4 linked regions of the Homo sapiens genome follow. The protein of the gene in region 4 purifies or fractionates together with the protein of the main gene of each other region. This does not show direct contact. Each region holds a gene or a part of one and is shown on either strand. Other genes may lie near its edges. The genes, in order: WDR43, WDR75, IPO5 and NOL7.

The links.
Region 1: the proteins of NOL7 (region 4) and WDR43 purify together in Homo sapiens (co-immunoprecipitation; 3 studies listed by BioGRID and IntAct, with this or other methods). This does not show direct contact.
Region 2: the proteins of NOL7 (region 4) and WDR75 purify together in Homo sapiens (co-immunoprecipitation; 3 studies listed by BioGRID and IntAct, with this or other methods). This does not show direct contact.
Region 3: the proteins of NOL7 (region 4) and IPO5 purify together in Homo sapiens (affinity purification with mass spectrometry; 3 studies listed by BioGRID and IntAct, with this or other methods). This does not show direct contact.

The regions. Positions count from the first base shown.
Region 1 is NC_000002.12:28,890,540-28,897,668, forward strand, and holds the start of WDR43 (WD repeat-containing protein 43), read left to right. Parts: upstream 1-4,127; 5' UTR 4,128-4,159; coding exon 4,160-4,384; intron 4,385-7,129. UniProt on the Homo sapiens protein: Ribosome biogenesis factor that coordinates hyperactive transcription and ribogenesis. Part of the small subunit (SSU) processome, first precursor of the small eukaryotic ribosomal subunit.
Region 2 is NC_000002.12:189,436,708-189,444,484, forward strand, and holds the start of WDR75 (WD repeat-containing protein 75), read left to right. Parts: upstream 1-4,766; 5' UTR 4,767-4,785; coding exon 4,786-4,871; intron 4,872-7,777. UniProt on the Homo sapiens protein: Ribosome biogenesis factor. Part of the small subunit (SSU) processome, first precursor of the small eukaryotic ribosomal subunit.
Region 3 is NC_000013.11:98,005,674-98,012,696, forward strand, and holds part of IPO5 (importin-5), read left to right. Parts: intron 1-456; coding exon 457-675; intron 676-2,385; coding exon 2,386-2,469; intron 2,470-4,207; coding exon 4,208-4,340; intron 4,341-4,429; coding exon 4,430-4,551; intron 4,552-6,572; coding exon 6,573-6,669; intron 6,670-7,023. UniProt on the Homo sapiens protein: Functions in nuclear protein import as nuclear transport receptor. Serves as receptor for nuclear localization signals (NLS) in cargo substrates.
Region 4 is NC_000006.12:13,610,957-13,618,349, reverse strand, and holds the start of NOL7 (U3 small nucleolar RNA-associated protein NOL7), read right to left. Parts: upstream 3,016-7,393; 5' UTR 2,992-3,015; coding exon 2,726-2,991; intron 2,639-2,725; coding exon 2,578-2,638; intron 1,888-2,577; coding exon 1,829-1,887; intron 581-1,828; coding exon 549-580; intron 293-548; coding exon 211-292; intron 1-210. Other genes in the region: SIRT5 (NAD-dependent protein deacylase sirtuin-5, mitochondrial), read right to left, coding at 6,485-6,560.

The sequences.
Region 1 (7,129 bases), on a different chromosome or scaffold from region 4:
AGATTGGCACAGCTTGGGACTAAATTCTTTTCTACCTATACTAACACGCAACATGATCTTTCCAGTCCCGTGGTTTCATATAGCAGCTGTATGCTAATGCATCCCAAATTCATATCTCTAACTGTGATGTTTTCTCCAAATCCCAACTCATATATCTAACTGCTTATTGAACAACCCTACTTGAATGTATAGTAGGTATCTCAAACTTAACTGTCCAAAACTGATTACATTCTAGTCAGGGAAGTAGATAATAAACACATTTAAAAATGAATCTCTAGGCTGGGTGCAGTGGCTCACGCCTGTAATCCTAGCACTTTGGGAGGCTGAGGCAGGCGGATCACCGGAGGTCAGGAGTTCAAGACCAGCCTGGCCAACACGGTGAAACCCCGTCTCTACTAAAATGCAAAAATTAGCTGGGCATGATGGCGGGTGCCTGTAATCCCAGCTACTCGGGAGAGTGAGACGGTAGAATCACTTGAACCCAGGAGACGGCGGTTGCAGTGAGCAGAGATCGTGCCACTGCACTCCAGCCTGGGTTGCTGAGTGAGACTCCATCTAAGAAAAAGAAAAAAAAAAATCTTTATTTCAGCTAGTGCAAACTGCTACAAGGAGAAACAAAGCCAGAGAAGGGAAATGAGAGCTTAAGTATTCGAAGGAATTAGGCAAAGCCTCACTCTGGCTCTGCAAGGTCAGAAGGAAGGGCAGTCAGTGTGCAGAGAACAGCAAGTGCAAAGATTGATCTCCATTCCACCCAAAACTCTTTCCCCAATTTAGCTAATGGTATCACTATTCACTTATTTGCCCAGGCATCAGAGTCACTCTTCATTCATCTGTTTTCCTCACCCTTCACAGTCAATTCATTTAGCAATTCCTGTTGGCTCTAACTTCAGATTATATCTGGAATCTGATCATTTTTCGCTACCTTCATTGCTTTCATCAGAGTCCTACCAATCATTGTCCTTGTCCCGACTACTACTCCACAGCCTTCTACCTTGTCTTTCTGCTTTTATTCTTGCCTACAGACTTCATCTAGCAGCCAGGATGTCTTTCAATAATATAAATCAGATCATGTTATTTCATTGCTCAAAACTGCAGGGGGCCGGATGTGGTGGCTCACACCTGTAATCCCAGCACTTTGGGAGGCCAAGGCAGGAGGATTCCTTGAGTGCAGGAGTTCAAGATCAGCCTGGGCAACACAGAAAGACCCCACCTCTTAAAAAAAAACATTAAAATTCTCCAGTGGCTTATTTCTATCATACTTATAATAAAATCCAAATACTTCACTCTGATTTACAAGGTACTAAATAGTCTGGCTCCCTCTGAACTCAGCTGCTACCTTTGATTTTTCTAGTTGTCACTATCTACCCTAAGTTTCTCCAAAGCTTTTTCTTTCCACTAGTCAAGGTCTTTGTTGCCTCAGTCTTTGCACTTGCTATTCTCCCCAGGTTGACTGCTCTTCCTTCTGATATTGCATGGTCTGAGTGAGGCTGTCCCTAATTCCTTTCAATACTTAAACTCTTTTCCCTCCTCCGGCTTTATTTCTCTTTATAGCAGCTTGCACTAGCTGAAATAGAGTTTTCTTTGTTTGTTTATTATGTGCTTCCCTGATTAGAATGTCAGCTTCATGAAAGCAGGAATCTTGTCTCTCATGATCACTGGTAGATTCCTGGTACCCTAAAACAGTGCCTGGCACATAGCAGGCATTCAGTTTGTTTGAGTAACTGAATGAATCCAAGTGCCAAATTAGATGTCTCAAATTTAGCATTCCCAGACTAAAGACACTATCATCTTCTTGCACAAAAATCTTCCAGGATTCACTATCCTAAGTGAATTGGGTCACCAACCAGTCTCTCCCTGTAAAAGCTCAATGAGTAATCCTTGGCCGTTTCTCTATCTCTCCCTTGGCCACTTGAAATCCGGCTCATTGTACATAATAAACACTCTTGAAACTTCCTTGCATCGCTATTTCTCCAAGCCACTCACCATCATCTCCACCTGGGGTTTCGAGCCTCCAACCTAGCTTCCTTCTAATACATTCATTACACTGTCTCCATGTAATCTTTCTAAAATGCAAATATTGGTCAGGCACAGTGGTTCACGCCTATAATCCCAGAACTTTGGGAAGCTGAGGCGGGCAGATTACTTAAGGTCAGGAGTTCCAGACAAGCCTGGCCAACATGGTGAAACCCCATCTCTAATAAAAATACAAAAACTAGCCAGGCGTGGTGGCACACGCCTGTAATCCCAGCTACTTGGGAGGCTGAGGCAGGAGAATCACTTGAACCGGAAGGTGGAGGTTGCAGTGAGCTGAGATTGTGCCACTGCACTCCAGTCTGGGCAGAGTGAGACTCTGTCTCAAAACACAAAAACAAACAAGAAAACAATAAAATGCAAATCTTACCATGCTGCTCCGTAGCTGTAAAAGCTTGAGCCTTCCCATGGCCATGAGAGTGGTTTTTATCTTTCCTGGCAGGCAATAGGCTCTGTGTGGGCTGAACAGTACCTAGCATTCCTTGAATTAGAATGCATTGATTTGGTGAATATTTAGGAGAAATATAAAAATCTACCCTTTATTTTTTGGATACAGGATCTCACTATGTCACCCAGGGTAGAGTGCAGTGGAGCAGTCATAGCTCACTGTAGCCTCGACCTCGTGGGCTCAAGCCATCCTCCTCCCTCAGCCTCCAGACTATGGGCGTGTGCCTAAAAATGTCTATTTGATGTAGCAACATGAGATAAATCTGGAGAAACAGGAGGGAATAGTTGTTCCGATCATTACTTTTACATTATTATAACTGAATACATTGTTATTTTGTAAATGATTACAGCCTGGAATTGAATAGGGGGAAACGGAAGCAGTTGTTACAATCATTATCAATTTGAAAGTGAAGACTTCTTTTCTCTCTCTTTTTTTTTGAGACAGTCTCGCTCTGTCACCTAGACTGGAGTGCAGTGGCGTGGCGATTTCGGCTCACTGCAACCTCCACCTCCCGGGTTCAAGGAGTCTCCTGCCTCAGTCTCCCGAGTAGCTGGGACTACAGGCACACACCACCACACCCGGCTAATTTTAGTATTTTTAGTAGAGACAAGGTTTCGCCATTTTGCCTAGCTTGGTCTCGAACTCTGACCTCGGGCGATCTGCCCGCCTCGGCCTCCCAAAGTGGGATTATAGGTGTAAGCCACCGCGCTCGGCTGAAGATTTCCTTCAAACCTTTCGTTCTACCTTATCATTTTCTTTAAAGTTTTAAAAAATTGTTATTTATTTATTATTTATTTTTTTAAGACGGAGTTTCACTCTTGTTGCCCGGAGTATAATGGCGCGATCTCGGCTCACAGCAACCTCCATCTCCCGAGTTCAAGCGATTCTCCTGCCTCAGCCTCTCGAGTAGCTGGGATTACAGGCGTGCGCCACACGCCTGGCTATTTTTTTTTTTTTTTTTTTTTTTTTTTTTTTTTTGAGACGAGTCTCGCTCTGTCGCCCAGGCTGGAGTGCAGGGGCGCGATCTCGGCTCACTGCAATCTCCGCCTCCCGGGTTCAACCAATTCTCTGCCTCAGCCTCCCGAGTGGCTGGGATTACATACAGGTGCCAACCACCAAGCCCGGCTAATTTTTTTGTATTTTTAGTAGAGACGAGGTTTCATCATCTTGGCCAGGCTGGTCTTGAACTCCTGACCTTATGATCCACCCGCCTCGGCCTCCCAAAGTGCTAGGATTACAGGCGTGAGCCACCGCGCCCAGCCCACGGCTAATTTTTTTATTTTTAGTAGAGACGGGGGTTTCTACATGTTGGTCAGGCTGGTCTCGAACTCCGACCTCAGGGGATCCGCCCACTTCGGCCTCCCAAAGTGCTGTGATTACAGGCGTGAGCCACCGCGCCCGGCCCCCCCCCTTTTTTTTTTTTTTTAAAGGAACAGGACTTGATCTTAATTCTACAATTACTTTCTCCCATACTCCCACTCCCGCCCAGAACAAGATAGCGACAGGCCCTAGCGGGCCACCGTCCACAGGGCGGATCCGCCAGAAGCTCTCCTGCGACGCGAAGATCCACTCCCTGAGCCCCCGGCGCTCCCTCCGCCTCACTTCCTCCTCCAGGCTCCGCCCCGCGCCGGTGCGCCTGCGCACGGACGAACACGTGGCTGCAGCGGGGCCAGAGCAGCAATGGCGGCGGGCGGCGGCGGTAGCTGCGACCCCCTGGCCCCTGCTGGGGTCCCTTGCGCCTTCTCCCCGCACAGCCAGGCCTACTTCGCTTTGGCCTCTACCGACGGTCACTTACGAGTATGGGAGACGGCCAACAACCGGCTGCACCAGGAGTACGTGCCTTCCGCGCACCTCAGTGGTACCTGCACCTGTCTGGCCTGGGCGCCAGCGCGGCTGCAGGCCAAGGTAAAGCGAGCGGGACTGCGCGGGGCGGGCGCCTTCCCGGGCTCGGCTTCGGGCCTCCGGGCCGGGTGGCGCGTGGTCCGGCATCGCGCGTGGCTCTCAGCGGCCCGGGCCAGAAGGCTTGGAGGCGGCGTCGGCGCGTTCAGGGCCCAAGCCGCCAGCCCCGCGTGCGGCCTGCCGCGAGGGCAGTGAGGGAGGGCGCAGCTCGACCCGGCCGGCCTCGTATCCGAGCCCTGCCGGCTGGCCCAATGAGGCCTGGGCCCCACTGTTGACGGGCAGCCATGTTCGCCAAGTCCCCTGGTCCCCCTGGGGCGGCTTCCTTCTGCCGGGCCTTGGCTCATCAGAGTTCTGGTTTTTGACAGAGCCCCATCTTGGGACTATCTAACTTTCCTCTGTCTGTGATCCGGCTCATCAGTTTTGCACTGGGCAGTTGGTATGGACTAGTCTGTACTTGCTTCCGGACCTTCCCCCTCCTGCCCCCCCTTTGGGTGCCGGCTCACCACGTGTTCTCGTCCCCGTCCAGGTTGTGGGACTCTCAACTCTTAACTTTTGCCTTTCCCAGGCACCTCTACATTCTCAGCTTTTTGAACTCACTGCTTTTTGATTTTAACATCTGCTCGCCCCTCCCGCCCCGCTTTCAAGCCGATCACACTGCTCCCCACCCACCCCAATCTGAAGTCTGTATTAGGATGTGGAGGTTAAGTGAAGTAGTAGCTTGATTTAGTGAATGTTTTATGAGTGCAGATGAAATTACCCTTAGATGGAAAACTGCCGAGTTAGGCAGAGCTTTTCATTGTTAGGGACCCGTGTCAGGTAAATGCCTTTCACTGTTGAGTCACTCAGCTACATCTCTCTAACTCAGCATGCACGTGGTTATTGCGTTTACAGAGTAGCCAAACCGAATCACTGCAAAGTGATTTGGAAACATCAGGTATCCTGAGGTGTGTGATGTGAGCTGTTTCAATGTGGAGAACTGTAAAAGCTATTTAGGATCTTACTCTCTCTGACGACCTGGGAAGCCTGCTAAATTTTTGGGTTGGGAAAAGGGATACATATAAGTTGCTATACTTTGGGCATGTTTAGATATTTTTCAAATTTTAAGCTACATTTTCATAGTTTATCCTGTTGATTCATAAAATAAACCTATCAGGGCTTATAAGTCAAACATAAAACTAAAAAAAAAATCAGTTTTTATTGTTAAAATTACAGCGCTCTGCTTATCTTTTATTTTCAAAGTTTTCTGTGGTTGTATTTTAACAGTCCTGTAAAGTGATAGTAATACTAATGCTGAGAGAAATACGGAGCAGTGGTTAGGTAGGTGCGTGGACCCAAGCTGGCTATATTGTCTATATTTGATTCTAGCCTCTGCTTCATAGTGGTAATTGCCCCTCTGGTTCCTCATTTATGAAATGAGGATAATAATATCTTCTTCATAGAGTGGTTGTGAAGGTTAATATATTTAATAATGCAGAGAACACTTAGAATAGTTCTTGACAGGTAAGTGCTTTAAGTGTTAAGTATTATTAATATCTGATATTTGTGTGGTTAGTCCTGAAGTGTTGATAAGGAACTTTCTGCCTTGTTTCGGGGAAAGAAACAGAAACTCTGGGAAACTAAGCAACTTGAATAAAGTAAAAAATGGAACCAGGATTAGAACTCAGGTCCTTAAGAGCTCGGTTCTTGGTTATCTGCAACAGATAGTTAATATTAGGTTGGAAAAAATGTCACCCACTTTGCTTTTCTGTTGAGTTTCAGTTGCATTGTATGCCCAAGAGAAATTTCCTAATCTCATATTAAAAGTCATAGTTTTGGATTATGTGCAACACTATGGTAAACTAGAAAAATAACTGGATTTGGTTTCATAGCCCAGACTCAAAACTTACTTTGTCATATTGAGCAAGTTGTTTTAATTTTGAGGACCTCATTGACAAACGAGAGTTGAGCTACATTAAACAAAATTTTTTTCTAGGTTTCAGCATCGTTTTATCTGCACTGTCTCCTTTTAACCACATGACTATGGAATCCCCTGAAATTAATTGCATTTTAAAAAAACTGATTGAAAATCAGAGCTAAGAAAGGTAAATGACTTGACTCAAGCCTTAATAACCAATAAAGGAGTGTGGCCTCTAGAGTCATGGTGCCCCGAACTCCTGGTCAAGTGCCCCGATTTTGTTACTCTCAATCTTGAGTCACAGAACTGAGAGAGCTGGAAGGAATGTAGAGACATTCCCTACTTTGAGGGTGTGTCCTCTTGGAGCATCAGTTTGACTTATAAACTAAGGAGAGACAGTTTTCTTGTATTAAAACAAACTTGCACATATATTATGGTATAAAATTAAAAAGTCATATGTACTGTAACAAGATATCTTAGAAAAAAAAGGCACATGTTAAGGTGCTCTCATCTTATTAAACCCTTCCTTTTATTTTACATCTTTGAGGCTTAGTGTATGAGGCATGAAAAGGATGTTGCTCTGAACCCACTTTCCAGCATTTTGTTAAGGTCCTGCTATATGATGACATATAGTACTCTCAAATTTGAAATAGAGGTATCATCACCCACCTTTTAGGATCCTCAGGATCAAATTAGGCAATGTATGTGACTGGTGTAGTATGGCCTAGTATGTAATAAGTGGCTTAATAAATGTTATTATTGAGTGAATCTGGACTCGTTTTACCATTTAATTTGGCATTTAATATGGTAAATCAATTTGTAAGAAAAGTATTCTATGTTTGGTTTAGTAATTGGCA
Region 2 (7,777 bases), on a different chromosome or scaffold from region 4:
TATGGAGCTGGAAGCCATTATCCTCAGCAAACTAACACTGAAACAAAAAAAACAAACACCACATGTTCTCACTTATAAGTGGGAGGTGGTGATGAGAATACATAAACTCATAGAGGGGAACAACACACACTGGGGCCTGTCGCAGGGGTGGCCGAGTGGAGGGAGAGCATCAGGAAGAATAGCTAATTTGATGCTAGGCTTAGTGCCTAGGTCATGGGTTGATCTGTTCAGCAAACCACCATGGCACACATTTACCTATATAACAAACCTGCACATCCTGCGCATGTACCCTGGAACTTAAAATAAAAGTTGATTTAAAAAAAAAGAGAGAGAGAAAGTCTGAACGAGATAGTCTTTGAAGCAGACACCACTGTGTTCCAAGATCAGCGCTACTGATTATAAGCAGAATGATCTAGGGTAAGTTAGCATAGTAAGTCTTAGGTTTTTCACCTATAGAACAGAAATATCACCTCCAGGGCTGTTGAGATAATTAGAAATATATGAAGCATCAAGCACGTGGCTGGCCCGTGGGAGGCACCAACTGAGAGCCATTTGTATATAGAGCTGCCATTAGATTATTTTTTAAAGTAGTACTTCTCAAACTTAAATATGCATAGGAATCACCTGCAGATCTTGTTAGAATGCAGATTCTGATCCCACATATCTGGGTAGGGCATGAGTTTCTGCATTTCTAACAAGCTCCCAGGTGACACTGCTGTTGCTGGTCCACGGACCACACTTTGTGCAACAACATTTCAAACCATTCTAAAATTTCGCTTTAGCCACTGGGTACAAGAGATCATACAATTTTAATCTATGGGTTTAATCATAGCCAAAACAGAAAAGGTGTAATTATAACCATGAGAACTGTTAACCTTAAATGGAACATAACCCGCTTGTGATAATCATCACTTAACTGCCTGAGGTTCCTAGGGCAGAGGTATACAAGAGAGAAAGTGCAGAATGAAAAATATATGGGATAGATAAGGATTTCAGCATCATAGGAAACCTAAGAAGAGATAAAAATTGCACCATCATTAGGGAATGAGGAAACATAGCAGAGCCCAAGGGCCTATCACTAAGTAATTCATGACATTAATACAAAATCGATGTAATCTGCTTGAAGATGTCTCCTATGTACATTATGCAGGGTAGTGGTGTGAAATACTGTACATGGTGTTTATATCTGTTGAAGGGAACAGAAACATACATGAAGATACTAAGCAGTAAAAATGTGACTAAATCCTTCTCACTAATGGGAAAGCTTTTAAAAATTTTATTAAATAAAAAATAAATAAAAATAAAAATTTTAAAAGAGAATGCTCAAAACTCAACAAGAAGATAACCAATAAAGCAATGCGTGAAGGACTTGATGACACTTCACCAAAGAGGATATAAAATGATGCTCAGCATTAGTCATTAGGGAAGTGAAAATTAAAACCACAATGAAATACCACTACAAACTTATTATGATGGCTAAAATAAAAAAAAAAAACCTTGACAATACCAAGTCCTGACAAGGGTGTAAAGTAACTAAAACTTTCATACATTACTTATGGAAATGCAAAAATAGTACAGTAACTCTGGGAAAAAAAGAGTTTGGCAATTTCTTAAATAAACATACACTTATGATTTGAGCAATCTCATTTGCTGGTATTTATCCTAGAAAAATAAAAGCTTATGTTCACACATAAACCTACATATGAATGTTTAGAGAAGTATTATGCATAATTTCTAAAACCTGGGGGTAAAACACATTCAACAAATAAACTGTGAAATAGCCATACAATGGAATACCACTCAGCAATATAAAGCACTGATGCACATAACATAAATGCAATATGCTAACTGAAAGAAGCTAGACTGAAAAGGTTACATACTATATGATACCATTTATACATGGCTTTCTGGAAAAGGCAAAACTAGGGATGGAGAACATTAGTGGTTGCCAGGGGATAGGTCTTGGGGAGGGGAAGGAGAAATACTGGGGAATTCTTTGAGGTGCTGGAATTCTTCTGTATCCTATTTGTGATGGTGGATACGATAATTTGTGCATCATAGATATCAAAGAAAGCAGATTTTATTGTATGTAAATTTTTAAAATTAGCCTAATCGTTTCACTTTTTAACACAAAGGCTACACTGTCTTCAATTTCAGAGTAAAACCCAAAGCTGTTACAATGATCTAGGAGACCCTATGAACTGGCCTCTTATTACCTCTCTGACCTCACCTTTTACTATACCCCCTTGATGATTATTCTCCAGCCACACTGGCCTCTTGACTTATCTTGAACATGGAAAGGAATACTCTTTCCTCTGGCTGACTCTTTCACCAAACAGCTCCATGCTTATTCACACTCTCAACCTTTTCAGGTTATTTCAAATGTTACCTTCTCAGTAAGGCTTTCCCTGAAAACCCATAATAAAGGTGATCAAACCCTTATAATCACTTTCTTTTCTACTTTGAGTTTCCCCTTGGCACATAAATACATCAAAAGTATAATAAGTTTTTGTTTCTTCCCATGATAAGGTAAGGTCCAGTAACATACAGATTTTGTTAACTATTTTTCTCACTCCAGTATTCCCAGAGCCTGAAAGAATGTCTGGCATATACTAGGCACTTAGTAAATATTTCCTGGATGGAAGATGCCAAATAAGTGTTTCTGGAAAATCCTTTTCCTTCTGTATATAGGCTATGCTCTTTCTTGCTATTCCCTTATTTCTTCTAACTGAAAGGAACATGAACTGTGAGCATAAGGACAAAACCAATATGGTTAAGGACAATAACACAAAGAACAAAGTAGAGAAAGCACAGGTCCCTGGTGGCATGAATGATCCACTGCACTAGCCCTATTCTGCCTACCTCAGCCTTCTTGTTACATGATAAAGACAACGCACTATTAATTAAACAGCTGTAGGTGGGATTGGTTCCTTAAAAATTATGTAAAAAGAAATCAAAATACAAATGACTTATCTTTCTGGGCACTTCAGTAAATTAAAACTCTGTGTAAAATAATCCTCCTATACATTTATCAATCCAGCTAGTTTTTGTCCATATCAGGATTTCTGATTCTTTTCTGAAAAATCTAAAGTTACCATACAGTAACATACAACTAAAGTCACACTAATTTGAGTGAAAATATTTATTTTGTTTCTTGGCTCAGGCCCTAAGGAAAAGCCTGTATCAGGTTACAAAGTACCCAACAAAGTCTTTAAAAGATTTATTGTGCATACATCAAGAGACTAAACAAAAAGAGGTTAAGGCTGCAGAATCAAAAGTGATATTTTACACTCCATCCACTGTGACAAAGGGTATCACAGTCATGAAAGAGAAAGCTGGTTACAGCTTGAGATAAACCAAAATTATTAAATATCTCCCTTTCTAGTTCTGGCTCCCCAAATAATAAAGTTTTGAGCACTTTAATAAGCTAGACTCCTCAGTAAAAAGTAAATTTATCCCTGATTTTTACAGTGGTGCTGTCCCAGGATATGTCTTGACCTTTGTGAATATTGTATTTCTCCACCATAAATAAACTTATAGGTATAATCATGTGTGGCTTAATGATGGGGATATGTTCTAAGAAATGCATTTTAGGTGATTTCATCATTGTGTGAATATCACAGAGTGTACCTACACAAACCTAGATGGTACAGCCTACTACACACCTAGGCTGTACGTTATAGCTGATTGCTCCTAGGCTACAAATCTGAACAACATGTTACTGTACTCAATATTGCAGGCAATTGTAACAGAATAGTATTTGTGTATTTAAACACATAAAAGGTACAGTAAAAACACAGTATTATAATCTTACGGAATCACCATGTTATATGCATTGATTGAAAGATCCTTATGTGACATGTGACTATATTTGAGACCTTGGTAATTTTGTGGTAAATCCACAAATCAAGAAGCGAAATCAAAATAGGCAACATAATATACAGGGTCCAAGAATATGATACGTGTAAGTTTACAAAGGAAAACTGGAGATAAACTGGCAAAAATAAACATGTTGAGATTTTAGGGGTTCCTAACCCACAGATTCTATTCACTAATGGGAAAAGGTAAAACTCAGGAAACCAGAGACCAGCGCCCTGAAACCTGGCGGGACTGGCCGAATGTCAGATTAGCCCGAGCAGCTACACTGAACGCTGCGGAAGATGCACCAGAATCCCGGAGTAGGAGCCAGATTTCCAAAGGAAGAAAGCTAGGCCCTAGGACTGTGGAGATTCTGTAGTAACCTAAGCGATGTTCACAAGAACAGAAGAACGGCTAATGAGAGGAACAAAAAGCTGTACAAGGAAGAGAAAGCTACCTTTCCACCCAATAACTCAACGCTGCGACCGAGAAAACCAGGGACGCGAGAGGCTCGCGTCATCCTGCAGCGCCGACACCACAGACACTAGAAAGCGACGCCTCCGGTGGGACGACTGGAGGTCACGTGGTACACTATACGCCACCTTTCCCTTCTGGCGGAAAAAGCCATAGAGTCAGGTTGACAAGGCCTGAGAGAAATATGTCTGTATTAAATAATTGTGTATAGGTATATAATAAAAACTGATTGTCTCTAAATCTCTGTTTTGCTTTCACCTTTTCTTACAAGTGTCTTAGTTTGACATTGCCCACACAAAAGGTGCCTGCACGGAAGCGGAGTCCTACCACCGAGTCTCAGGCCTAGAAGGGCCCGGGGGTGGGTTCTGTGGGCTGGGAACAGCCTTATTACCCGGCTCAACGAAGGAAGTTCAGGGCGGGACCAGAGATTGGCCATTCCGCTACTGCGCAAAGATGGTGGAGGAGGAGAACATCCGCGTGGTTCGTTGTGGCGGCAGCGAGTTGAACTTTAGGAGAGCTGTGTTCTCTGCAGATTCTAAGTATGAGGGGCACCGCGCTTTGTCGGCTGAGGGGCGGGGCGTGAGTTTCTCGAGGGTCGGGGAGAAGGAATTGTCAGTCGCGTTCGGACTCGCCCGCCTGGCGGATATCGGCTTTGGGTAGAGCACGCGCCTGTGGGGGATCCCCAGGGTACCTGGGAGGTCCCGTTACCACTGCAGATTGGGTTGCGTCCCCCGATTCCTGGACAGTTTACCTGCAGGTAGATAAAGGCCCTGGAGCCGGTCTCCGTGTCGAGGATCTGGAAGGTGTTCGGGCGGCTGGAAAATGGTCCAGGGGTGGATGTGTATGCCACTACCTTTGCAGTACCTACTCTTTCGTACAGAATCATGTTTTGGAGTGACTAAAACCTAAAACTATTCCGCTTTTTCTACCCACTCCTCACTCCTGAAGCATAGTGCATGAAGCATAGTGCAGTCTTTTCGGAACTTTACATGAAAACAGATGTTAGATTCTTTATGAGATAAAAATACGCTAAGACTTGGTCTCTTTTCTCAGTGTAGCTGGAAACCAAACCACTCCCTGGCTTCAAAATCCACTTCTTACATTATGAAACCTTTGTAAGTTTCTTAATCTTTGCCTCAGTTGCCATCATCTGTAAAGGGGGACAATATTTAGTTCATCTCACGTGGTTATTGGGAGGATTAAATGCCTCAATATGTTAAAACTACAGACAACAATGCCCGGCACATAATGGCTCAATGTATGTAGCTGTAATCATTATTACTGTATTGTCAGGTTTTCAAATAACTTTAGGTAGGGTGGCACTTAATAAAATCAAAAAACCCTTTCTGCCTTAGAAGAGTAGAGATAGTATTTTATGAAAGTTTGTAGCCTCCACAATATTCTTTTTTTTTTTTTTTTTTTTTTTTTTGATGCAGAATCTCACTCTGTCACCCAGGCTGGAGTGCAGTGGCTCAATCTAGGCTCATTGCAACCTCCGCCTCCCTGGTTCAAGCAATTCTGGTGCCTCGGCCTCCTGAGTAGCAAGTATTATAAGCGCGGGCCACCACGCCCGCTAATTTTTGTATTTTTAGTAGAGAGAGGGTTTCGCCATGTTGGCCAGGCTGCCCTGGAACTCCTGGCCTCAAGTGATCTGCCCACCTGAACCTCCCAAAGTGCAGCGATTACAGTGAGCAACTGTGCCCGGCCCACCCCCACAATATTCTGCATATGAGTGTACGACAGGTAGTTGTTGAAGGTAATGCAAGCATGACTGAAAGAGCTTTTATAAATTGCCTTAGAAGCCAAAAAAAAATGAGTCCTGTGGCTTTGTTGACATTGATCTTATGAATCAAAGGAAGAAACAGGCTTTAAGAGGCTGTCACACTGTGACGCTTCGGACTCATATCCATGTAACCAGTACTGTTCTTATACCTTATTCATTATAATGAGGTCCATTGTGTGTTTGATTTGCTAAGCCCAACAATTCATTTTTTAAGTACTTGTCAACTATATATTATGTATAACATGCTGCAGTGACAAAAACTAAGATAATTTTAATATTGATCCTGCCTTCGAGGAGCTTACAGTCTAGTGAGGAAAAGGAATACTCAGTAACAGATTTTTCTTACTGTGGTCCTGTAGGAAGGAGCTCATAAGAAGAGATTACTTCCCAAACTAAGAAGGACGGAGAAGATTGCTGAGCAAATGACATTTGTGCTAGGCCTAGATGATATTTTAAGTGGGGAATATGGACAGAAGACATTTCAGGTGGGGAGGACAGTGTAAGCAAGAAAGACAGAAGTGATTTCTGTTGAACAGGCTGGTACAGTTAGCTAGTAAGAATGGTATATATTAAGGGAGGTAGTGGGAAATGAGGTTGGAAAGGACACGTGCAGCCAGTTGTTGGTTGTTGTTTGGACCAAAGAGAATGGTTTTTTAATTCTTTAAGGGGACGGCGGTAATCAGTTGTAATTTGATTGTGTTTCTTCAATAATGTTAACCTGAAAACTGTAAAACTCTATGATACATGTTGGTGAGTGGAGAAATGAGAGCTGGGTAGGCTGATGTACATAAAGTACAGTGATGGCATAGAAGAGGGAGTTACATAGTCAGTTTTACCTTCAGTAGTGGTTCTTGCAGCAATGGCAAGAGTTTGCCTCACCAGTAATACTGGGGGATGGAATGCCAGGCAAACAAGCTTGAAATCTGGGGGCCTTGAAAACTGGGGGGATTGAGCCTTCTATGTAAAGTCAGTGTAATTGCAGCATAGGGTATAAGAGATGGCAGGAAAAGACTCTGGAAGAATAGAGACCAGGGGTTAGAAGACCAGTGCAGGCATCCAAGCAAGAAATCACTTTTGCCCAAACTAAGGTAATATTGAACATGGAGAAAAGAGACAGGGTTTTAGAGTGATTTCACAGTCAGTGTCAATGGGGAGATAGAGTTCAGTTCGGGGTTATTAACTCTAAGGTACCTGTAAAACAACCAGGTGGATATAGCTAGTAGTAGGTAGAAATTCAGGACTGAAGTTTGGAGAACTTGGTCAAGATTTAGAGATTTTTTTTTTGTCATCTATATATAAGCTAATAATTAAAACCATTTATCTAACAAATGACAGGATTTTAATGAACTCAGCAAAGATTTGAATATTATCTACAAGGTACCACAAGGGATTGGCTGCCTTATACAAAGAGGAATAATTTTGTATTTTACCTCAAGGTGCTTATCAAGAAAGCCAAAATCATAAAAAGACAGACTTGTGGAATTTTGGCGGCTTCCTCTTGAAACTAGAACAAAAACTCTGTTCTAGGTACTTGAGTAGGTTGTTCTGAGGGGCATGTGGGTATACATGTAAGTTCCTGGTGTTCCCATATTAGATATTACTGACTCTCAGTCCAGTTCTGTTTGCATCCCATTCTGCGGCATCCCACAGTTATATGGTGCT
Region 3 (7,023 bases), on a different chromosome or scaffold from region 4:
GTGCGATCTTCTGGGGAGAGGGGGTTAGAAGATAAAGGAAGGGGCCAAAGAGGGAATTTTCTTTATGACGTAGTAAGACAGCACAAAATATAATCATAAGTAGAGGAAATCAGTGAAGAAAAAAATGAGGATGAAGTGTAGGCATTAAAGTTGATGAACACAAAAATTTTGATTCCGTATCTGTACTCAAGAATTAGCTGTGCTTTGAGATGAGACTAACATGAGTTAGAGGTGTTGTGTTAATAGAAGAGAGAAAAAAAAAATCTCACATAAATAGTTCAACATAGATTCTTTTTATAGAAATTTCCTCCAAAACCTACAGTCTCTGCTTCTGGAGAGGTGGTCTCATTCTGCTGTTTCAGAAAAGCATTCAAGAACTTGAAGGGAGTAGTAATTGTAAATTTAAATACTTCTTCCAGTTTTCCTTTGAGGTAATAATTTGTGTCTTCCTTCTAGCTGATTCAGAAAGGCACCAAGTTAGTTTTGGAACAAGTTGTGACATCCATTGCATCAGTTGCCGATACTGCAGAAGAAAAATTTGTCCCCTACTATGATTTATTTATGCCATCACTGAAGCACATCGTTGAGAATGCGGTTCAAAAAGAACTGAGACTTCTGAGAGGAAAAACTATTGAATGCATTAGCCTCATTGGTCTGGCTGTTGGGAAGGAAAAAGTAAGTAATTTTTTTTTTTTTTTTTTTTTTTTTTTTTTTTTTTTGAGACAGAGTCTCGCTCTGTCACCCAGGCTGGAGTGCAGTGGCACGATCTCGGCTCACTGCAAACTCTGCCTCCCAGGTTCATGCCATTCTCCTGCCTCAGCCTCCCGAGTAGCTGGGACTACAGACGCCCGCCACCACGCCCGGCTAATTTTTTGTATTTTTAGTAGAGACAAGGTTTCACTGTGTTAGCCAGGATGGTCTCAATCTCCTGACCTCGTGATCCGCCCGCCTCGGCCTCCCAGAGTGCTGGGATTACAGGCGTGAGCCACTGTGCCCGGCCTGTAATTTCTATTATGTTAAATTTACTGTACCTAACTTGGCTGTGGAGGCATTGAGAGTACTAGAGGGATTTTTTCCTTCTGAAAAATGGTTTTCTGGATGCTTGTTTTTTTCCTTACTCCTTTCACATTGCTCCTGTTTTATATACAAATTCTTGCCTTCATCTTTTCATTGTTTGTTTGTTTGGTTTGGTGTTTTTTTTTTTTTTTTTGAGACCAAGTCTCACTCTATCACCCAGGCTGGAGTGCAGTGGCATGATCCTGGCTCACTGCAACCTCTGCCTCCTGGGTTCAAGCGATTCTCCTGCGTCAGCCTCCCAGGTAGCTGAGATTACAGGCACCTGCCACCACTCCCAGCTGATTTTTGTATTTTTTTTTTTTAGTAGAGATGGGGTTTCACTGTGTTGGCCAGGCTAGCCCTGATCTCCTGACCTCAAGCAGTCTGCTCACAGGTGTGAGCCACCGCGCCCAGCCCGTCTTTTCATTGTTAATATTAAGGTTTCTTTTTAGCTCAGCTGTGCTCCTGATGCCTCCTCCTTTCCCCACCACACACAGTGCATCTCGTGGGAGGTGTGTGGAAGTCAGTATCCATGTTCGTTCCCTTTAAATATGTGCTTGGAAACATGTCACTTGCTTTCCTATTAATCTAAAATGCATCAAGTGTTCTAAGAGAGAAATCTATGCATATAGATCTTCAGAAAATAATTACCAAGGACCATTGGCCAGTGTGTTTCTCAGCCAACATCTCAGAATTGTTCAAGCTAATGCAAAAGAAGTTTCTCTGTCATTGAATCCTCATGTTCTGACCCTGAGAATTATCAACAGAGAAGCTCTGTCTTGCCTTCTTCAAAACCAGCATCAGTATTAATTTATATTTGGAACTGGTTTCTGTGAGACGCTGACCACTAAAACATTGGTATGTTTTTTACCAATAAAATATTTGTATGTCCCATACTCTATATATCTGGCTTTCAATGTCTCTTTAAAACGCTGCCTGTTTATACAATGGAGATTACCAGAACTGCAAAGAGTTAAGTGAAAATCATAGACAAAATTTTATGCAGTGAATTCTATAAACAATCTAAAATTTTCTTTCTGAATTTGAATTCAGTTTTACTGCTTGAAATGCGTAAGCCATAGACTAACACCTGATGCCATTAGAAGTACCTTTATACTGTAGTTCCCTGCCCTTCAGTGGAAAATATATTTTTCTAGAAAGTGAACTAAATCTGTCACAATATAGATGAGAATTTTTCAATATGATAGTTTATCTATGAAAGTTATGACCTATGTGGGCAATGTAGTCGATTTTTTGGCAAAGCTTTGCTAATTACACAAGAAACAAAATTCGGTATCAACAAGTGTGTCTCTACATATTTTCCTCTAGTTCATGCAGGATGCATCAGATGTGATGCAGCTTTTGTTAAAGACCCAGACAGACTTCAATGATATGGAAGATGATGATCCTCAGGTAAGTGGTCTTAATGCATTTGCTTTGATCCGCTAATGAGTTGTGGACAGCACATGGTTCAATATATTTAAAACAAAAGGAGTGATAGGTTTCTTGACATACTATCAACCCCTGCTAGCAGAGACATTCTTCACTGATTTTCCTTCTGTTTCTCAAGCTACTTTTTCTCAGTCTGTTGTAGGTTGCTCTTGCTTTCTGTGACTCTCACTCAAGTTTTGGTGTTTGTGGGTTCTATCCAAGGCTCTCTTCTCACTCCTGTGGAGCAGTGTCACTCACAGACATGGCTTCCGGTTTCCTCTGTGTGCTTGCAACTTTCAGATCTTCAGAATTGAAGATTCATTTATCCAACATGTAATAGACATCTCCATTTGGGTGTCTCCTAGCCCTTTGAAGGCTGCATGATCTCCCTCCCCTGGCAGAAAATACAGAACCCAAGAATCTCAGGACACACTGCTTGCCTCTCCGCCAACGAACAGACAAAGGCATTTCATTAGGAGGAACCCCTGCCTCTCGACACACACGCACATACACACATAGGTATACATACCCAGCTAACGCTTGCTCACAGTTCTCATCCTTTACAAGATTTTCCTGATCTGCTCAGTCTCAATGGTGGGCAGTTCCAACACTGTTATAGTAACATCATAAATGTTTGTCATATCTTGATGGTATTCCCAATGCCTAACATATAACAAGGCACTCAATAAATAATTGTTGAATTAAATTTTGACTTTACATTGCCACACTGTAATAGTTTAAATAGGAAAACATACCATTTTGCAAAGAAAGCATGTTTTGTTGTTGTTTGCTTTCTTTGCAAAATGATATGCAAATATACATGTATGTTTTGTATGTACAGAGATAACAGGCAGGAGGGATACTTAGCAGACTGCTGACAGTAGGGAGACTGAGGGGACTGTAAGCTGTAGGGAGGGGTGGTAAGGACGAGGCGTGTTGCTCACCTTTGTATCAGCCAGCATATAGTTTAATGCCTGGCATGTGAGAAACACCCAGTACCTATCTGAAGAGCGGGTGGACTTTTACATATAAAATCATTAAGAGGTGGGGCATGTGTCCATGCATGCTCAATAGATAAATAGGTAGGTGGATGACAGATATCAGGGGATAAGAATCACTTTCTAGGTTGCAGGGGTGGTGAATGGAACCAGATTCTCTAGGTAATTTGCAGATGATAAAGTCTGTGTAAACACAGTAATAGGAGAAGAGGTGTTTTAAATATACTCAGCCACTTATGAGAAAATTATAACAGCTAAGAGAAAAGGATGTTTTGTTTCTTGGGTTTTAATAAATGTTTAATGAATGGAGTGGCAGGCAATAGGGATACAGAGTCAGATAAAATACATTTCTGTCTTCAAAAAATTTGTAACTGGGAGTTGATGAAGTGTTTGGTTTTGTTTAGGTGATTAGTTTCATTTAGATGATTCAGATGCTAAGAAAGAAAACCATTATCACTTACTGAAAGTAGAAAGAAATACCCAAGGTTCTGGTCTTTGTGTTTTGCCTCACCTGCTGTCCATATCCCAGTGTAGTGAGTTCACAGGGATTTCATTATTGATTCTGAACCTTTTAAGTACATAACCTTTAGAAATGCTCTTACTGCTTAAAGTACTGTGAACATATCAATAAAACATTGTTTCTATGAAATAAGGAAATGGCTTTCTTTATCACGTTTACCCATTGTTTTTTAATCTATTTTAATTTTAAAATTTTTCCCCAGATCTCTTACATGATCTCAGCATGGGCCAGAATGTGCAAAATCCTTGGAAAAGAATTTCAGCAATACCTTCCAGTGGTTATGGGGCCTTTAATGAAGACGGCTTCAATTAAGCCCGAAGTAGCCCTTTTAGATAGTAGGTGTCTTTAGAAGGAGCTATCGGTTATAATAGTTCTCTCTTTGTTATTATTTTTCATATGCATTTGTTTTCTTCTCCGTTAATAGCCCAAGACATGGAGAATATGAGTGATGATGATGGTTGGGAATTTGTGAACCTTGGAGATCAGCAAAGCTTTGGTATTAAAACTGCAGGACTAGAAGAAAAATCAACTGCTTGCCAGATGTTGGTAAGAGAGCACTGTTTTTACTAAACTTTTATTTTACATCTTATATACATTTCATATGAGTGCTTTTAATAGCTGCTAAAGAAATTACTTTGGAGAGCCAGTAATATGTTCCTTAAAAAGTAAAGTTTTCTTTCCATTTTAAAGAAATCGTATGGATAAACCTTTCATTATCAGTGCTGTTTTAAATAGCAAAAAACAACAAATAGCCCAAATTCCTGTTAGTGGGAAGATGAATTACTGTGCCTTGGAGTAATATACAGCCATTACAAAAAGTTTATAAGCTACATGAGGGAAGGATTTTTGTTGGTTTTGTTCTTAGTCTATAGTAGGTGGCCATGGAATGTTTTTTAAACAAATGAACAGAAGTGTGTTCATGCTATTTAATGTGAAACAAAACTTGTATGATTTCAATTGTGTAAAAAAACAGATATGGCAGGAAAATCAAAATGTTCGGTTATTATCCCTTATGGTGTTTGTGGTGTGCATATGCATGTTTAGTTCCTAGTTTTCTTTTTGTTTTCTTTATGAGCATGCGTTTTAAAGTGAAGGATAATCCTTTTTTTTTTTTTTTTTTGAGGTGGAGTCTCTCTTTTTCACCCAGGCTGGAGTGCAGTGGCACGATCTCGACTCACTGCAACCTCCACCTCTGGCGTTCAGTTGATTCTCCTGCCTCAGCCTCCCGAGTAGCTGGGATTACAGGCGCCTGCCACCACAGCTGGCTACTTTTTGTATTTTTAGTAGAGATGAGGTTTCACCATTTTGGCCAGGCTGGTTTCCAACTCCTGACCTCAGGTGATCCGCCTGCCATGACCTGGGATTACAGGCATGAGCCACTGCACCTGGCCAATACTTACTTTTAAAGTTAGATTTTAGAAATTAATGTATTTCTTATTGTCATCTTCAATACTTAGTATCTATAAATTATAAACACTTTGGATTTTTGTGGGTTTTTTCTCTCAACTGGAAAGCAAATACAAATAATAACATCTTTAAACAGAATTAATCTTTAGATGTAGTAGAAGAGAATGAAACAATTGGGTTTTTGGGGTTTTTTTTGTTTGTTTGTTTGTTTGTTTTGCTTTTTGAAACAGAGTCTTACTCTGTCGCTCAGGCTGGAGTACAGTGGCTTGATCTCAGCTCACTGCAGCCTCCGTCTCCTGGGTTCAAGTGATTCTCCTGCCTTAACCTCCCGAGTAGCTAGGATTACAGGTGCACGCCACCATGCCTGGCTAATTTTTTGTATCTTTAGTAGAGACGGGTTTTCACCATGTTGGCCAGGCTGGTCTTGAACTCCTGACCTCGTGATCCGTCTAACTCTGTCAGCCAGGCTGGAGTATAGTGGTGCCATCCCGGCTCACTGCCACCTCCACCTCCTGGGTTCAAGCGATTCTCCTGCCTCAGCCTCCCAAGTACCTGGCATTACAGGTGCCCGCCACCATGCCTGGCTAATTTTTGTATTTTTAGTAGAGACGGGGTTTCACTGTGTTGGCCAGGCTGGTCTCGAACTCCTGACCTCGTGATCTACCAGCCTCAGCCTCCCAAAGTGCTGGGATTACAAGCATGAGCCACCGTGCCCAGCCATGATTTTTTAAAAATACAAAATAACAGAAGCGTTTTCTACAGATTTACAAAGTAAATGCTTCAATTAACTGATGGTTTCAGGGTTTTTTGTATCTTTTAGAATGATTTTTCCTCAATTAAGTGATACATTTTGTTTGATGTATTGCTGAAACTTGCTGAATGGAATACGAATGATTCCAGCCTTTGAAGGGACAATATATACGACAATAATTTCCTTTTTTTTTTTCTTTTTGTCACTCACCAATACTACAATCATTTCATGACCCTTCTTTTAAGACTCTTTTTAGTTGGAAGACTAATTTGACAGTTCTACATGCAACTTTAAATGTAGTTCTAGTCAAAATACAACCTCCTGTGGTCCTTATGATTTTGCTGTTTGTTAATATTAATGCTTGAAGACTAACATGAATCTTTATTTCCTCCCAATACTTTGGTTACAGGTTTGCTATGCTAAGGAGTTAAAGGAAGGCTTTGTGGAGTACACCGAACAGGTTGTCAAACTGATGGTCCCTTTACTGAAATTTTATTTCCACGATGATATCCTACAACTTCTGAATACAAAACATGTCTAGATTTAGTAAACTTGTAGTTTCTTGGAGTATTAGACAGTGTTGACTGAAGTAGACTTCACCATGATTGTTTGTATTTGCACTAAGTGTACTCTTAGGTGATAAACTCGGTTCTCTGCATGTGCCTTTGTTTCCACTTGTGCCAAAACATGAAAAAGAAAACGTGACCTATCCTATGTTTGTCAGCTTTCTGTGGCCCACTTAAGGATTTAAGGATAATTAGCAAATGATTACAATTATATATAGTTGCTACTTTCCCCAAATATCTTTTGGTAAACGTTAAGAAAATAAGACTTTTATTTTAAGAGATGGTGTCTCACTC
Region 4 (7,393 bases):
CGTGAACCCGGGAAGCGGAGCTTGCAGTGAGCCGAGATTGCGCCACTGCAGTCCGCAGTCCGGCCTGGGCGACAGAGCGAGACTCCGTCTCAAAAAAATAAAAAAATAAAAATAAAATAAAATAAAATAAAATATTTTCCCATGTTAGCCAATACTTTAACTCTCTTAAAGGTCTCCTTTACATCCCAAATGAAACAAAAGACTCATTACCTGACAGACTGTACTTTTTGTACTTTAACTTTCTTGGAGTCATTTCCTTTTTCACAGTCTTCATTTTTCTTTTGCAAATTAACTAAAAAATAGAGTTACATTTTCTAATTAGCATTCACGTAAAAATAAATCAGGAAATTTACTGGAGTTCACTTTAAGCATCCACTACACACCAATGTGGATGCAGTTTTTATTTGTATGAAATACAGGGAATAGGCCCCAGCTAACCTTGGCCAGGCCCATGCTGGCTTTCTAAGGGCCATTCATATTTGACTGGAAACATCTGCAAGTGCACTTGACACTTACATGAGAAGTTAGTTAAATTAGAATAGTCATACCTTCTTTCACCTTTCCTGGCGATTTCTTGATGCTAAGGAAAAAAAACAAAACCACTGACTGCAATGGCAGTAAAGATTACTCAAAACATGTTATATTATTTCATTTGCCTTTACAAGTAAGACACCCCCTTTCATTACCAACACCCTCAATTTCTACTCAGGAGCTCTCATCAGTTTGGAAAGCAATAGTCACTCCCTAGTACACTGCCACCAACTCTCAAGCATTGGAAGATCTTCACAGTTAAAATCTGAGAGCCTATTAGCAGGCTTTCAAAGCAGCAAAATGCTGTGGGCAATGGAGTTCAAGTGAAACACTTGTTCAGAACAAGTTATAAAGTATTTGAAATATGAAGTGAATGGGAGTAGGTCTGCCTCATTTCATTTGGAGAAATCACAAAGGATTAATTTAATAGTTTAGGCACAGGAGACAGGGAACAGCCTCAAGGGGGCTGTGGCCCAATGGAGAGAGAAATGTAAATGGACAGAATACAATACAGAAGCATTTGCACAGGAGAAAGGCCACACAAAAGCGGAAGTGATGGGAGGTGGGGGGGGGCAAATGAGAAGGTAAAGGTGACACTTGAGCTTGGTTTTAAAAGATGAAAGGGAATTTGCCACCAAATAGATTTGCTCTTACGTTTAATGTATTCAGGATCTGAGTAACTCTTTGGTAAAGTTTTTTTACTGAAAACTTGAGAGTCACTGGCCTAAGCAAAAGGGGGCTGAATTTCTGAATTTAAAGCCTTAAGGGGAGAAAAAGAGGATAGAAAAAAAAAAATTTAGAAGGCTAAATTTAGTAGGGTTTGATCAATTCCCAAAGACGACTATAGCTTTTCGCTTTAAACCATAAAACACCAAAGATGCTAAATGAAGTGGGGAACAGGAAGGACAGGTTGGTGGCAGGTAAGGCAAGTATGGGACAAATCAAGTTTTCAGAGCCTGTGGATAAGTGCCTGCTACCCCACTAAATGATTCAAAACACTTTTTATTCACCACCACCCACTATGCCCTAGTACAATGACAGGCAGTCAACAAAATGTACTGAATGAACACAATGGGATCAGGAATTCAAAAGCTAGCTATGGGAATGAACAAAAATAAATGGTAAAATAAGAAGTAGAACGTTACCTCCGTCTTTCCCATCAAATTCATATACCAAGGTAGCTTTTGAATTTGGGTTCTACAATTCCTTCAGTTATATGGATTCAAATAAATGTACCAGTATATAATTCAAAGATGGGTGTATATAAGCAAGTAATATAAAAAGATCCATTACTTACTTAGTCTGTGAAGCTGTGGTTAACTTCTCCAAAATAGTGTCTGGAAGGAGTTTTCTTTTCTTTTGGAATGAAAACGTTTAAAATTAATAGAAAGTCATGTACATAGTATGTCCGGAGTTGCTTCTGAAGTTACCGCTTTTAAGAATGCCCTACATCTAGGCAAAGAAATGAATTAGGCTGGAAACTGCCCCCATACCTCTAAGCTATGGGAAGACCGGGTCCACAAAACTCCACATTCTCTGAAAGACTTGATGAAAACTAGAAAGGGTGCCCACGGTATTCTAACCCTCAGGTCACTGTTATAAATTGAAAGCAGTTAAGTAATGTCTGCCTGGAGCCAGCTCTCTGTGTCGAGTATCAGACAGCAAAGCAACCATACACTAAGTCTGTACAGCCCTTACAGTTTACAAATCACCTCATTTAATTCTCACAGCAACCTCTTATTTTCAGTTGGTGGACACTAAAGGAGACGAACTTTTTTTTTTTGAGACAGGGTCTCGCTCTGTCGCCCAGGCTGGAGCGCAGTGGTGTGATCTCGGCTCCAGGCAGCCTCGACATCCCGGGCTCCGCCCACCTCGTCCAACTAAAGTACTGCCGCGCCCGGCCCGAGCATCTTTCCACCACTGTCAGAGGCAATCTTGGTGACTGTTTCCCCACTCCAATATCCTGCCAACCCAAATTACATCCACCATAGGAATTCTCCCTGAGCCGAGTTGTTTTAATAAGACACCTCCTCCCTAGCCTCTAACCTTCTGTTCGATGAACAGCTCCTCGCGTCGCTTCCTCTTCTCCTTCAGGAGCGTTTTATCCCTGGGAGGAAGGGTGATAAGTCAGCAAAGGGAAGGACAAGCGGGACGAGAAAGGGCGGTTCTCCCCGCCGGGCAGCGGGCTCCGAACCTGCGCACGGTCTCCCGCACTCGCCGCTCCTCTTCTCTCGCTTCCGCCTGGGCGCTGGCGAAAGTCAGCTCCTCCGGGGCCTCATCGTCAAACTCATCGTCCCCTTCCTCGTCTTCCTCCAGGGGCTCGGCGGCCGCGCCGCTGCTGGGCTGCCCGAGCAACAGCCCGTGCTCCGCCTCCTCCTCCTCCGAGGCCAGCTGGCCCTCGTCCACCATCGCCTCCGCCGACGCCGGGGCGCGAGACGCTCGCGGTCGGAGCTGCACCATGGCCCACGCAGCGCTAGACCGTCTGACCTCTGACCCGGAAGCAGCTACAAGCGGAGCGCAAGCCTACTTTCATCGCCCCCTGCAGGTTCGGAGGTCCTCAGGACGGGTGGGGCGCATGCGCGAAGGGAGGAAGGGCGTGGCCTGTAGGCAGTGGGCGTGTTTCTTTCCACGTGGCCAGCGCAGGCCGCCTTGGAGCCGGATGGACCCCACGGAAAATGCTCTGCCGGCGAAAGCGGCTGGCAATGGGGTTGATTTCAAGGCAGGGAAGAGCCATCGCGCTGCCCTCCTCGGCTGGGATGGCGAGACAGGGCTGGCACGGCTCACGCTGTCCGGTGCTCAGAAAACCGGTAATCGCGGGCCCGAGGCGCTGCTCGCCGCCGTTTTTTGGCCCTGGGTTCCGTCGAGTGGATCCAGCTTGTCAGTCTTTGTGTAGATTTGGCTGCGTTCGCTCCGCACTTCGGAGGAGGTGGCGTTTCATGGGAAGAAATGCGCTCTAGCAGATGGCCGCCGTGGCCAGTCAGCCCTGCTGCCACCGACGAAGACGCGGGCGACAGACCTGGACTCTAAAGAAATCTGCACAGACGTGCCCGGCGCCCTCGGCCTTCCCAGCTCCGCGGCCGCAGCGACGCCGGTTAGGATGTCGGCCCTGTGGGAGGGGCGCCCTTCCTGGTGCCGGGCCCTAACCCACGACCTGGAACAGCAGCTGGCCCGTGGCAAATGCTGAGCATATCTCCTGAAAGAATGGCTTCGCCGGTCCCTAGAGAATGCACCCGAGTTTTGTGGTATATACACATACGTACTTTTTTTCCAAGTATATTTTATTTCTTGGCAAACATGGCCCTTTGTGATCGCTGTGTTTCTCTCCTCCCATCCATTATACAACACTAAGTGATTCATCATTCTTTGAACAAATCAAACTGTTTCACACCTGCCATGCATTTGTACCGACCGTGCTCTTCCCTCTACTGCCGCAGCCCCCCAGGTAGAAGTCCTTTTTATACTTCAAAAATTCCCACCCAGGCAAATTTCAAGCACCTTACCCCTACCCCATCCCACTCTGCCCATCTCTAATTGCGCTGGTCTGAACCCGCACAAATGTCTGTGTAGTTTCTGCACTTCATAACAGCTTATATGACAGTTGCTCCAGCCATTCTGTGAACCCCTGAGGGGAAGGGCCAGGTCTTGCTAGTCATTTTATTTCTAATGTCTATCATCTGGTAGATGTTTAATAAATGCTAAGTTGAATAATTCTATCTTACACATATATTGTATTTTTAATTCTCTTTTCATGTCTTCTGTTTTAGAAGCAATTCTCAATTTAAAAACGACAAAACCAAATAGGAACAAAAATGATAAAACTTGAAAACAACAACAACAAAAAAAGCTGCTGAACCAGAGGTTCAGTATGAGAGGAATTGCAAAGAACAGTTTTGAAATCTCTAGGCCTTAGTCAGATAGAAATTACAAATCAAAAATATAATCAGACTCCCTGAGACACTAACACTAGGAAAATGAATAAAGTTAACTTGGAGCAGCCCAAGAACAAACTTATAAGTGCATGATGGTATTTTATGTGCAAAACTGCTTTATAAGTACTATAAGACTATTACAGGTATTACCAGTGCCCTCAGTGTAAACTCCTTGGCCCACCCATGTAAAGTGTACATCGAGCCCTCAGGGTCCCTGACTGGTTCTCCAGCCGCCCCATAGGCTATGAGCATCCCCGTTCCCTACACAAAGGACCACTGGGATTTATTAAAGGTTATGCCTTGCAATGCAGTACAAAGTTTTATATGATAGTGTCTTGTTGCCTGTTTCTACAAAAGCCAAGGGTGTAACATTAAATGCAATTTTGCAAGGGGCTGAGGTGATGTGGTCCAAGTATGTAATCACTTCAGGGAGCCATATGTGACCTTCATACACTGTTGATAATGGCCATGCCTCCCAGTCAGGCCTGTGACACCTGCTGGACAGCAGGCATTCCAAGGCCCCTAAGCACTGAGTTAGCTGGTAAAGGTTAAGGAAAAAGCTGTATTCTTACTACTTTACTCCAAGGTAGTAAAGTGTATGGAAGATGTACCTGACAGAAATAACTTAAGCATCCCCTGAGAATGACCCTGTATGGCAGATGCATCTGACAGCAATAACTTAAGAAGTGAGGGTTGCCACGTGGAGGCTGCTGAGGGGAGGGTGCTGAGTGAAAGTGCTATGTAAACTGCATGCTTTTTATAAGTGGTTGCAGTTCTGTCCAGCCCGCGGCCACTGGACCACCCTGTAAGGTTCCCCAAATAAACCCTATGTTTCCTTCACTAGCTCCAGGTCTCTTCTTTGGCCTCTTGAACCTGGTGCCATCCCTACTGAAGTTAACAGAGGTCTGGCCCAACCTAAGGGCATCATTTTTTAAAGTCCCATGGAAAAAACTCCCAGCAGAGTTCAGCATCTGGGAACGGTTGGCAGGCCCCACAGGAACCACAGCTTCTGCCTTTATGATGCTGAGAAACACTTCACTGTTGACTTCCCCCATCTAAGGGGGCCAGAGCTAAATTTTGGGCAGCTGTGTTTATCCTGGGGGTCCACATATTTGCATCATTCTTTCTTCTCATCGTGATGTTCTACCTTGTTGGTACTGTTCTCTTCCTTCTTTGTGTGAGTTCCTGTTGTGAGCTTCCCCTTGTTCACTGAGGTAATGTAGCCAAACAAGGTTAAAAAGCCCCCAGTAAGCCGGGTGCGGTGGCTCATGCCCGTAATCTCAGCACTTTGGGAGGCCGAGGCGGGCAGATCACCTGAGGTCGAGAGTTTAAGACCAGCCTGACCAACATGGAGAAACCCCGTCTCTACTAAAAATACAAAATTAGCTGGGTGTGGTGGTACATACCTGTAATCCCAGCTACTCATGAGGCTGAGGCAGGAGAATCTCTTGAACCCGGGAGGCGGAGGTTGCTGTGAGCTGAGATCGCACCACTGCACTCCAGCCTGGGCAACAAGAGTGAAACTCTGTCTCAAAAAAAAAAAAAAAAAGTCCCTAATAAAGCCATATCGTGGGGTAATGTCTTTATACAATAAATTACCTACTGTAGAGTGTGATTTTATTTTCCACTAAAACTTGTGCAAAAATCAGAATAGTAGGGTTTTTACCCCTTGACTTCTACTTTGCCCAGATAACAAAAATATAATCAGAATAACTATTTTTTTTAGACAATCTAATTTACAAAATTTTTCCCTCCCAATAACCAACCATACACATCAAAGATACCTCACGTTTCAGTTCAAACCAAATAATATGAATTAACTTTCCAGTTCTGTGACTTTTGAATGTGGGTGCTCTTTGCTACTTCTAAACCCCCATCACTTATCAACAGGTTGGATTCCAGCGAGGGAATCAGAGGCTATTTTTAGATTGTTCAGTACTCAGCTCACCACCCATAAGACCATTTCTCCTCTGCGTGTGGCCTAGTTCTTAGATATACTGTAATTTCTTTCTTCCCCAGGACACTTAAGAAACAGTTTCATTTTCATGACAGGCAAGGGCTTCAGGAAGAGTCGTTCCACAGGGTCCCTGGAAATGAAACCTGAAAGAGAAGAAGCAAATACAGCAGTTTTGAACTACAGGTTAGCAAAATGAATGCCCTACTTCAGCAAGCACTTATTTCTGAAGTAATAGCCGAAGTAAAACCCAAATTCTCATAAAGATGGTATTATGAATTTCCATGCCCACTTCTTTCAACTAGCTTCTAACAACTCTAGTTATAACACTTCACTATGGGCTGGGCTCTGTGACTGGGGGAATTTTGAGAAGCAAATGTCTAGAATTTATGTGCCATAAAGAAGAATTTTATTTCAAAGTGTAAGAGACATGATTACAAAGTGTATTCTGTTTGTTTTTTTCAAATCCTGAGAACCTATGCAAGTAAAGTGTATTTTGGGACTGTACTGCCAAACTCATTGAAATTGTAAGTATAAAATATACATGTATGTGTGTTATATATGTATTTTATATACATATATATGTTTTATGTGTATCTATATAACACGTATGTTTGGCATGTTATATATAGACACAATACATACTTTTTTGTGTATATATGTGTGTGTATATATATGTGTGTGTGTATGTGTGTGTGTATATATATATATATATATATATATATATACACACACACACATAAAACATTACAGCAGCATTCACAGGTAGTACTGAGAACAAGAGAAAAAAATACCCATGCACTATCTGACCACTAGGATCTCAGCTAAGTCAACGAGCCTCTCAAACCACCTGTTGAACTTTCTGACTAGCTTCTGAGGTGTAGTTAGAAAAAAGAGAAAGAGGAAGGAGAAAAAAGAAGAAAAATCATGGACTTTTGTTTAAAAAAACTATGAATAAGAAGCAAAAGCAGGACTTCCT